2 separate regions of the Homo sapiens genome follow, and region 1 is linked to region 2. Evidence: fine-mapped expression QTL. A gene starts in region 2. The other region holds a variant in brackets. All regions are shown on one strand. Distances are between the middles of the regions.

Region 1 (5,376 bases), 21 kb before region 2:
AGCCATTCTAGAAATACACTAATTACTCCACTCAGTCCTGGGGAGTCTAAATTTCTTTGTAATACATCTCCAACTAGAGGCATTTATCAGACATAAAATCCCCTAGACATCTAACTTGCCTTTCCAGGAAAAAAAAAAAGACAAATATAATTTAACAATAAACTTGTGTAGGAAGACAGACACTAATGGTGAGAGCTGCACATAGTTGGTGTTAATGGTAAATTTCTTGAAGTCTGATTATTCTAGTGTAATCAAAATCCTCCTCAATTCAAATAGCTCTTAGGCTCTCTTGACCCATCACTAGACTGCCTGAAAAGCAGGAAAGTTCAGTCACTTAGAGAACACATCTTAGGCACACTATTCTGTTGCTGGCACATGGGACACATGAGCTGATGAATTGAGTGTGCCTATGGGGTCAGGTTTGTCTAAGCAAAATCAAACGAACAAAGGCCTCTGAATGAGTAGTTGCCAGCGGCCTATGCAGCGACTACTTCCTCCCCACTCACTCAGCAACTTGGGCCACATTTCTGTATTGCAGGGTTGGAATGGACTTTGTTCAGCCTCAGTGAGGAAGGGACCAAACACATTTGTCCCAGGTTCAAGGAGATCATGAGATTCTCCCATTTTCCAAATGTCAACACTGGGGATGGTGTGTATACAGTAGGCACATTTCTGGGGAAGTCGGCTATCTCACCAAAATATTGCAAGTAATTGTTGATATTCTGGATGCTGACTGCTTAGAGGCATCTGCTGTACATATGACAATGCAAATTTGAAACATTGGCTGGCAGTGGCAGAGCTACTGATCCCAAACCCTGGTGGGGCTCTTTGACTGGTTTGAAGGTCAGGGTGGAGAAAGTTCAACTTTAGAGCTCTTTCCCACCAAGCTTTTCTTTTCTTATTAAATTCAAAAAATGTTTATTGATCAACAACTCAGTGCTAAACCTATGGGAGAACCCAAAGACTTAAAAACCTGGGGTCCTGCTCGCCAAGACATGTTAAATGAGATAATATAAAAATTCCCATTTCTGGTACCTGAAAAAGGCTTGGGGCTGGAGAGGTGACATCGTTCAGCTTGCTGACCTCATCAATCATCTGTCCCCAGACAGGCAGACAGATCTGTTGGAGAAGTCATCCTCAAAAGTAAGGCTGCAGAGCCAGGGTCTGTTTGAGAGCAATGGAATCCAATGGAAATCACTTCTCAAGTACACTTTATGTTTGGACATTTCTCAGCTCTTAAAGCTTCTGACATTGATTGGATGCTGGTATGGCTTTATAAACACTTGTCTTTTTCATACACTCTTAAGGATTCATGTCTCCTCGACCATTTTGTATATTCTAAAATAACTATGCCATAAAATAAATGAAACAATTCCCACTTACTGCATAGTTTATTCAGATATTGACCTTATGTTTGGGCTGAACTTAGCTATAATTGAACAAAGAGTGATAAGCCATCGTTGCTTAGTGATATTTTCTATCACCTTCGCTGAGGCTGCAGTTGGCATTCTGCAGGCTCTTTCCAACAAGACCATTTCTCTGGTACACAACTGAGCAATTACACTGACTGAGCTGAAATCCACAAGCATTTGCGGAGCACTGCTCTGTGCAGGGGAAGCTCCAAACACCTAGGTGGCAAAGAGGAGCAAGACCCATCCCTGACCCATAGAACCTGCCTGTAGCCCCCGGATCCTGCCGGCCCAGGGCAGGGGTGTGATGAAGTGGACACCAAGTGCTCTGAGGAGCAGTGTGAGGGAAGAGAAATTCTGGAGAGGGAGAAGGCCCCACATCCCCAGGGCAGGTGAGATGTGAGCTGGGTCTCCCGGGATGAAGGAGACTGGGCCGAAGGAGAGGGTAGGGAGGAGCACTCCAGTAAGGCAGTGAAGTTTGGTGGAGCACTGACCGGGTGGGAGGCAGGAGAGGAGGTGGGAGTAGGGCCTGGAGGGTAAGGTTACCAGGGGCTGAGAAGCCATTAGACTCTCAGCAGCAGCCCTGAGCTCTTGAGCCTGCCCTTTGTTTTTTATCAAGCCCCCCCCCCCACCATGTTAGTATCAGGGAAGCTCAGGGGATCCCTATTGCAAGTGGCAATTCCTCACCCTCCCCTTCTGCTTCATGAGGTCAGATATCAGCTGCCCAATATCCAGCAGCAACTTTTAATACCATGTTTTGTTTCTGAAGGTAGCAAGGACATGTAAGCTTGGGAGTATGTGAAAAAAGCACTGAATCGAGAGTTAGGAAACAGAAACAAAGTTTTCATCAATTATGTAAAGCAGCTCTCTGCCCCTGAGATTGGAAACCAACCTAACCACAAATGGGGCCTAGTTTTCTCTCAGGACGTCACGGTCTAAGACAAACAAATGCCATACAAAGGAGAGAAGTCAAGGCAGGGGATGTTGAAAGCAGAAAAGGAGAAGTAACTAACTCCTGTGAAAAGGAGGCATCATCAGATCCGATCCTACTTGGAAACTGACAGCTGAGCCTTCACTGTTCCTACTGGGTCAGAAACAAAGCAACACGAGTATGGTGCCTGCAACGGTCCCATTGACCCCCACATCCCATGGGGGTTTGTGAGAGCCCAGACAGATGCTGTGCACCCAGTGGGCTGCACTGCAGAAGAGGAGCCCTGAGCTCAGGGCATATCCAGAAGGAAACATCACCTGCTGCAGTGTCCTATTGCAAACACAGCTCTGAGATGCCCAGTTCAGGAGCGGCCAGGCCTTGCATTCCTGGATACCCAGTGTGTGAGTTTCCTGTGGCTGCCATAACAAATGACTATAAACCGTGTGGCTCAAAACATGTTTATTCTCTTACAGTTCTGAGGTCCCAAAGCCTGAAACTGACGGGTCAGCAGGGTGGTTCCCTCTACTGTCTGTGAGGGAGAATCGGCCAGGCCTCTCTCCTGGCCCCTGGTGGTTTGCTGGCAATCTTTGGCATTCCTTGGTTTGCAGACACTTCATCCCCATCTCTGCCTCCATCTCAATGACCTTCTTCTCTTTGTCTCTGCGTCTCTCTCTCTTTTCTCTTATAAAGACATCATTGGGTTTAGGGCCCATCCTAAATACAGGATGATTTCATCTCCAGGTGTTTTAATTACATTTGCAAAGACCCTTTTTCCAAATAAGGTC[G/A]CATTCACAGGTTCTAGAAGTTAGGACTTGGACCTATCTTTTTGGGGGCCACCATTCAACCCACTACCTCCAGGAAAGACCTGTAGGAGAGCAAGAGACGGGTGGAGGATTGCCTCTCCCATTGCTGAGCTTTCTTAACAAGAGAACGGTTTTTATGTCAGCCTGAAGTAGTGATCTACATGAGCAAAGACATGGGTCTGGAAAGAGGAAAAGAATATTTGAGACAAGGTGTCATACTTTACTAGAAGTGAGGAAACCCGGAGTAAATGGTGTGAGATAAATCAGCCTGCACACTTCCTAAGTGTCAGCACTGTTCTCGGAGCTGGGACAGTAGCTGTAAACCAAACAAAAACTCCTGCCCTCACGCAGCTTACATTCTGATCAGGAGAGACAGGAAACAATATTAAGAGGTAAATGTTCAAATATATTAGAGGCAGAATCTAGGAGAAAAGTATCCAAGGCAGAGAGAATAACCAGGGCAAATGCCTGAGTGGAAACTGTGCTTGCCATGCTGGGCCAGGAGTGAGGCTACTGGGTGTGAAGTCAGAAACCAAGAAGGCGCAGAGACTGGACCCTCCTCGCATGCTGACAAGGTGGCCTGCACAGCTCCACATCACATGCACATGTGTATAAAACACCAGACCAAGGCCGGGAGCAGTGACTCACGCCAGTAATCCCAGCACTTCGTGAGGCAGGGGCAGGTAGATCACGAGGTCAGGAGTTCGAGACCAGCCTTGCCAACGTGGTGAAACCCCATCTCTACTAAAAATACAAATATTAGCTGGGCATAGTGGTACACGCGTTTAATCCCAGCTACTTGAGAGGCTGAGGCAGAAGAATTGCTTGAACCTGGGAGGCGGAGACAGAGGTTGTAGTGAGCCAAGATTGCGACATTGTACTCCAGCCTGGGCGACAGAGCAAGACTCCATCTTTGGGGAAGAAAAAAAGGAAAAACAGACCTCTGAATCGGAGAAATGGACAGTTTATTACTCACAGTGAACACAGCAGCCAGAACAGTATCTTTAGTCACTTTCCCATGCCCCTATTCCCAAGAAGAGGGCATGTGGATCGTACCAGCTGGGCAGGCAGTGGGTCTGCATCCCAGGAGAGGGACCCGAAACTGGGAGACTTGGAGATTTTATCAGGGCTGTGGAGGACCTGCCTTTCTTCTCCTCCAGAGATAGATGACTCATTATCCAGCAACACAGAGGTCAGCACCGACCTCACCAGCAGCAGGCTCACAGGAGTGGCAGGGGCATTGGGAGAGTGGGAGGCAGCACAGGGTCAGCTCTTTCACGAAAACAGAGAAACGGGGCAGCTCTAGAGTGGGAGTAGGGGCACAGAGAACAGGAAGGAAAGGCGGCCGGCGAAGGTATGATATCACACCAGCTCCCACTGTGGGCACCCAAACCCAAGCCTCCTGGGAAAGTCTGGGAACTGTTAAAAATCCACACCTCAGCATCACCCTGCCAAGGGGTGGGGTGGGGTATGTACACATCCCCATCATTCCTTGATTGAAGGCTGCAGGAGAGTGGAGTTCATGCCAAGGCACTTGAGATCGACCATGGATGCAGCCAGGCAGAGGCAGAGGAAGGCCAGCCCTATCCCAGAGAAGGGCAGGACAGGGGTGGACATGGGGCCCAGGGCACTGTGGCAGTGCATACAGGGACCTGGGCAGGCACAGTGTCAGTCAGAGGTCCAGAGACCTGAAAGTGAGAGGGGCGGGACCCTTGAGGTTCAGGGAAAGAGCATCTTATACTTTTTCCATTTTGCAGTGACTTGGAGATTTGTCCACACCAGTGCACAGAGACGTGTCCTCCTTTTATTTCTTTTAACAGCCGCTTAATGTTTTATCCTAGCAGGAACCCTACCATGGGCCATTTAAAGTGTTTCAAATCTTAGGGGGCTGAGCCTGGTGGCTCACACCTGTAATCTCAGCACTTTGGGAGGCTGAGGCAGGAGGATTGCTTGAGGTTGGGAGTTCAAGACCAGTCTGGGCAACATGGCAAAAACTCATTTCTTAAAAAAAAAAAAAATTAGACCTGTAGTCCCAGCTACTCGGCAGGCTGTGTGAATAGTAAGGGGTCAGTCTGGTTGGGAGTCTGTCTGGCGGGGGTCTGGCTGGGGTCTGCCTAGATAGGTCCTGATTTGCTGGGGGTCCATCTGTCTGAATAGCTGGAGATGTGTACTCATTTGGGGGACTTGTCTGTCAATCTGGAGGATCATGTCTGACTAGCTGGGGTCCATCCAT
Region 2 (5,376 bases):
CCCCCTGCACACTCAATCTGTGACATTGTCTTGTAAGCAATAACTGTAATGAAATATATTATGGGCTATGTAGCTAAACATATAAGACAATGTACAATGAATGCATAGGCATTATAATGGATAACATATTATGTACAAGATACTATAGGCACTGTGTTACTGGGAGATTATAATAATAATTAGTGAATCGTGTATTACCATCATCGTCAGGTATTCGTAATCTCAATGATAATAAGTAACACCCATGCCACCACTGTGTGCCAGCCACTATTCTAAGTGCTTTACTTGTGTCCATTGGGTCATTTAAGCCCTCATGATGCCCTTGTGTAGTGGGAACACCTAGAAGAGCGCAGTGATTCCTGCACATGCGGGAGGCAGGCTTGGGGAGCAGGGGTGCCCTCGCCACCCAGCCTTCCGCATGTGAGGCCCTCCGCACTGTACACGGTTCAGAACCCACCCAGTCGCATGATGTCATATATCACATGGGTATTATGTTTACATTTGTTACACACATTCTTATATTGTATAATTATATATTTTACATTTATTATGCATTTCTTAGTTTCTTATATACAATGTTTCTACATGTGTGTAAATTACTTAGGTTTATAATTATCTGTTACTTTTTTTTTTTTTTTTTTTGAGATGGAGTCTCGCTCTGTTGCCCAGGCTGGACTGCAGTGGCGCGATCTCGGCTCACTGCAAGCTCCGCCTCCCGGGTTCACGCCATTCTCCTGCCTCAGCCACCCGAGTAGCTGGGACTACAGGCGCCCGCCACCACGCCCAGCTAATTTTTTGTGTGTTTAGTAGAGACGGGGTTTCACCGTGTTAGCCAGGATGGTGTGGATCTCCTGACCTCGTGATCCGCCCGCCTCGGCCTCCCAAAGTGCTGGGATTATAGGCGTGAGCCACCGTGCCCGGCCATCTGTTACATATTTTATATCTACTTATGAATTTATCAAATAACTTTGGTCATTTTATAAATTATAATCTTTGTTATATTCATTTGTTGTATTGTTTTATGCAGTTATGCAATGTTTATTGTATAAACGGTCATTTATAATACTTTTATATATTTGTCATATTTCTAAACTTGATACATGTCACCATATATCAGTTTATGCGTTTGTATGGTATGTTTCTATGTCTGGTACATAAGCGATTACACTTTAAACACGTCATCAACTGTAATGTACAGTGCCTAGCATTCTGCGTGAGCCTTCCTAATGCTGGGCTTGCACTACCTGTATTGTAACGTTTAGATTTTTTGTTTGGTTTTGTTTTGTTTGAGATGGGATCTCACTCTGTGGCCCAGGCTGGAGTGCAGTGGCACCATCTCAGCTGTGCAGTGGAACCATCTCAGCTCACTGCAACCTCTGCCTCCCAGGTTCAAGCGAGTCCCCTGTCTCTGCTCCCTAGTAGCTGGGATTACAGGCATGCGCCCATGCCCAGTTGATTTTTGTATTTTTAGTAGAGACGGGGTTTCGCTGTGTTGCCCAGGCTGGTCTCGAACTCCTGAGCTCAAGCGATCCTCCCACCTCGGCCTCCCAAAGTGCTGGGATTACAGGTGTGAGCCACCGCACCTGGCCCACGTTTAGAATCTTTATAGGCAGTGACGAACGCCCCTACGAAGTGTGCGCCCAATATGTACTAAGTGCTTTTCACCCACATCATTTAATCCTTAGACCAGTTTGGTCATTCATGTCCCCATTTCACCAAGGGAGAAGCCGAGGTCAGAGGGGCCAGGTAGACCGCCTGGACCACACGCGGATGGCCGGGACGCGGATTCGGGACGGGAAGCGGATTCGGGCCCGGACGCGGATTCGAGCCCGGCGTTCACACCCTCACCACGCCACAGCCTCCGTGTTCCTCTTCGCCCTGCTGCAGCCCCTTCCTTCCTGTGGTCACAGGGGACAGTCAGGTCGCCAGAAGCGGCGGGGCCGGGGCTGTCCAGCGCAGCAGGGCCGCCCGCCCTCCCCTGCGGCGCCCGCCCCACCTGTCCCGCCCGCAGCCAGGTTGTTCCGGGAGCGCGACGAGGACACCGGGAACGAGGGTGTGCACGGTCCGTCCCGGCCTGGCCGTGGACGTCGCGCTCCGGGGCCGGGGGGCAGAGAGTGAAGACGGAGACAGCAAGAGCGACAGAGAAGTGCTGGGGAGAGAAACACGGAGAGACCCCCCGAGGCGGGGAGACACCGGGGACACCGAGACAGAAAGGCAGAGCCCGCCGTGCGCGGAGGACAGGCGTACGCAGGGCCAGGGCCGGGGCGCGCCGCTCGCGGACCCCGTGTGCCACTCACGCTGAACTCGCCGGCGAGGACTGCCCCCTCCCGGCCGCCCCGCGCTTCCAGCCGCTCCAGGAAGCTCCGCGCCGAGTCCAGGCTGCGGCTCATGGCGCCGCGGGCCAGCAAGGTCCAGCCCGGCCGCCGCGCGCGCGGCGAGTGTGGACGCCGCGGGAGGCGGAGGCCGGTGACTGAGTCCCCGCCCTTGCCTCGGCAGCCAATGGAAGCGCGCAGCGGCGGGCAGGGCGCCCCAGCCACCGTGTTCTGAGCCCGCGTAGCCCCACCCCGGGCGCTCGGGCCGCTGTGGCCGGAGCCCTAGGTCCTCGCGGGCTGCCCTGAGCAGAGTCCAGCGCCGGCGCTTCCCCTTTTTTTCGGCTGCCGCGCCCACTGGTGGGGGGGTGGCACGGTCCCAGGTTCGCTCCCTGCCGCTTGGGACCCGCCCTCAGATCGGGATCCGCGCCCAGGGGCCGACCTCCGGGTGCCGGCTCTGGGTGGACGGCCGAGCGGTCTCGCCGGGCCCTCCCGCCCGTCCCCTGGGAGCCAGGCCGCGCGGAGTCCGAGCTGGGGCGGGCAGCAGCCTTGGGTGGAGACGGTCGCCGAGATCAGGCTGCCCCTCGTGCCAGAGGACCCCGGGTCGGGGGCGTCCCGCGCTGTGCGCTCCAGCCGGGCCCAAGGGAGGCCGGGGAGGGGCAGCCACGCCGTGGGAAAGGCCAAGTGGCAGCGGGATCTTCTCTGTGTATTTCCCGAGGAATTTGTGGTTCCTTTTTCCCGGATGCGCTGGGGCACCAGGGTCAGTCCTGTGTGAGCATCTCGACCTGCACAAGCCTGCTGGGAAACAGAACTGAGGCACTGGAAGTGGGTTCTGGGGAACGAAGAGCTTCTCTTTTTTGCCTGCCCTGACACTCCCATCTTCAGAAAGTGTGCAGAGGTCAGAGGAGAGCCGCCGTTCCAGCTTCCGGGATCACCGAGGGGAGGCTGGAGAGAATGGACTGGCACCTGGGTCTCTTCAAGGACAGGCCTAGGTTAGCCCCCTTCTCGCCGAGGTCGGAAGAATTAAGAGGGGTGTCACTGGAAGGGGCGTCAGTGGACACCAGTTTGAGGTCGTTGAGGGGTTGAAAGGTAGCATTGGGGCCTGGATGTGTGCCTGAGTCTCTGAAGGGTCAACAGGGGCATGATGTCAGGTGGTCAATTTAATTCACTAGGGGCTATCAGAGTATTTAAGGGCACACTTTCTTAAAGGTCCCGGTAGGAAGTGGTTTTGGCTTTGCTATCGCTGCCCCAGCTGCTTAACTCAGCTGTGGCAGCATGAAAGCAGACAATATAGTGTGGCTGTGTCCCAAAGAAACCATTTATGGACAAAGAAATCAGAATTTCATGTAATGTTCATGTGTCATGAATTATTCTAGTGTGTGTGTGTGGCCTACAGGCTGTCGTTTGCTGACCTTGGCTGAAGTGATGGAGCGATCAAAGTGGCTCTGTGGGGATCAGCAGCTAGGGCTGTTTGATTTATCGTGGGGTCCGCAGGGGTCACTGTGAGATTCATGTTCATCATTTATCAGTTTCATCTTTGAGCATTCTCAGGGAGGTAATTGTTTAGGATGGTGGTGATAGGGAATTCATTGGAAGCCAGTCGGGGTCCCTTGGATGTTCATGGGGGGGGGGGTGTCAGTAGATATTAATGACAGTCATTGGGAGGCCAGTGGATACTTGGGACAAGAAGTGAAAGTAATTGTGGGGCCATTGGGATTTGGAGTGTTAGTAATTGAAGGGTCCGAAGAGTCTGGGAAGTCATTGAGAGCTCTGCTCAGTGCATGATAGTGACTCTCAGTATAATCATTGAGGGTTTGTGGATGGCCATGGAGATCCAGGGAGGTAGAATACAGAAGCATCAGTAAGCTTTCAGAAAATAAAGACATTTTCTGGGAAAATGTGAGCCCCTGAGCACACATGGTTATTCAGGGCAGTCTTTATGGGCTAGAGGATCTCTGTCCAGCAGCAGGGATCCTGTTGAGGGCCTGTCCTCATAGGCTGAGGTCTGTCTGACTGGTGGAGGGCATGTCGTCCAGCTGAAGGTCTGGTTGACTAGGTGGGTGGGGTGTTCTCTCCTCTGGGGTAATGTCTCTGTCCATTTTGGGGAGGGCACCTGTCCTTGAGGGATTCTGACCTTTGCCTGGCTGGGGGGCCCAGGTGTCTCTCTGGCCACAGGCCTATTTGGATGTCTGGCTGAGGGTCTACCCATCTGTCAGTAATCTGTCTGTTTGTCCAGCTGGGTGTTTCCCTGGGATTCTGTCCATCTGGAAGTCTGTCCAGCCAGGGTGTGTGTGTGTGTGTGTGTGTGTGTGTGTGTTTGGTGGTTTGTCTATTAGAGGATCTGAGTGACTAGCCAGATGCTGCCTTGTGGCCTGTGAACATTAAGTGGCTGAGGCTGTAGTCTGCCATTTGTACTTCCAGCTGCCTTGAGTGTCTTTCTGTCCTCGTGTTCACCCTCACTCCAAGCCCCACCTTGTTGTTTAACCCACCTGTCCTCCTGACACCTGACCGTTCCTCATGTCTCTCCAAACATCCAAACTCTTAGCTTGCCCTCTGTTCAGCTCAGGCTAGGTGTGGGGGATGGGAAGACCCCACATCTTCCAGAGGCCCTGGCCCACCCCGGCTTTTCTCTCCCGGAGGACTGCCAGCTGTGTTCTTGCAATGAGACTCACTGCTGCTGGTGGCCCTCCTGTTCACGCTGCCAGCAGCAGTCTTGCACAGTGGGAGCTGCTGGCACTGCTACAGAGACCCCAAGTGTACCAAAGCCCACGTGCCATGTGCCAGTCTGTCACCTGCCCACCAGTCAGTGTGGCTACATGGGCCGCTCAACAGAGCCAAGAGGACAAGGTAGAGGAAGATGCACAGGGACAGGTGCACAAGGCTGTGAGTTCAGCCTGCTCTGAGCCTGCAAAGGGGAAAAGAGAAACTACAGTGGAGACCCCTGGCAGACACCCCTTCCTCTGGGATGCTTGCGGGGAGCTCCTTGGAGACTGCTGGCATCTCCAGGGTACAGTTCTTCTCCAGCTTCCTTTTTTGCTTAGTTAAAAAAGGGCAGAGACCATCCTGG

What was found.
Region 1: its variant is fine-mapped to the expression of PTPN18 in whole blood (TOPMed, PIP above 0.99).

Annotation. Positions count from the first base shown.
Region 1 is chr2:130,374,121-130,379,496 of GRCh38, reverse strand. PTPN18 (protein tyrosine phosphatase non-receptor type 18) reads right to left here. Exons shown (of 15, transcript NM_014369.4): 15 at 4,092-5,376. Among named protein-coding and RNA genes, the nearest start is that of PTPN18, 21 kb to the right of the region's middle. The variant G/A (reference allele first, on the strand shown) is at 3,126.
Region 2 is chr2:130,353,122-130,358,497 of GRCh38, reverse strand. PTPN18 (protein tyrosine phosphatase non-receptor type 18) reads right to left here and starts at 2,442. Exons shown (of 15, transcript NM_014369.4): 1 at 2,298-2,442. The coding sequence starts at 2,390. RefSeq lists silencers at 2,003-2,052, 2,193-2,862.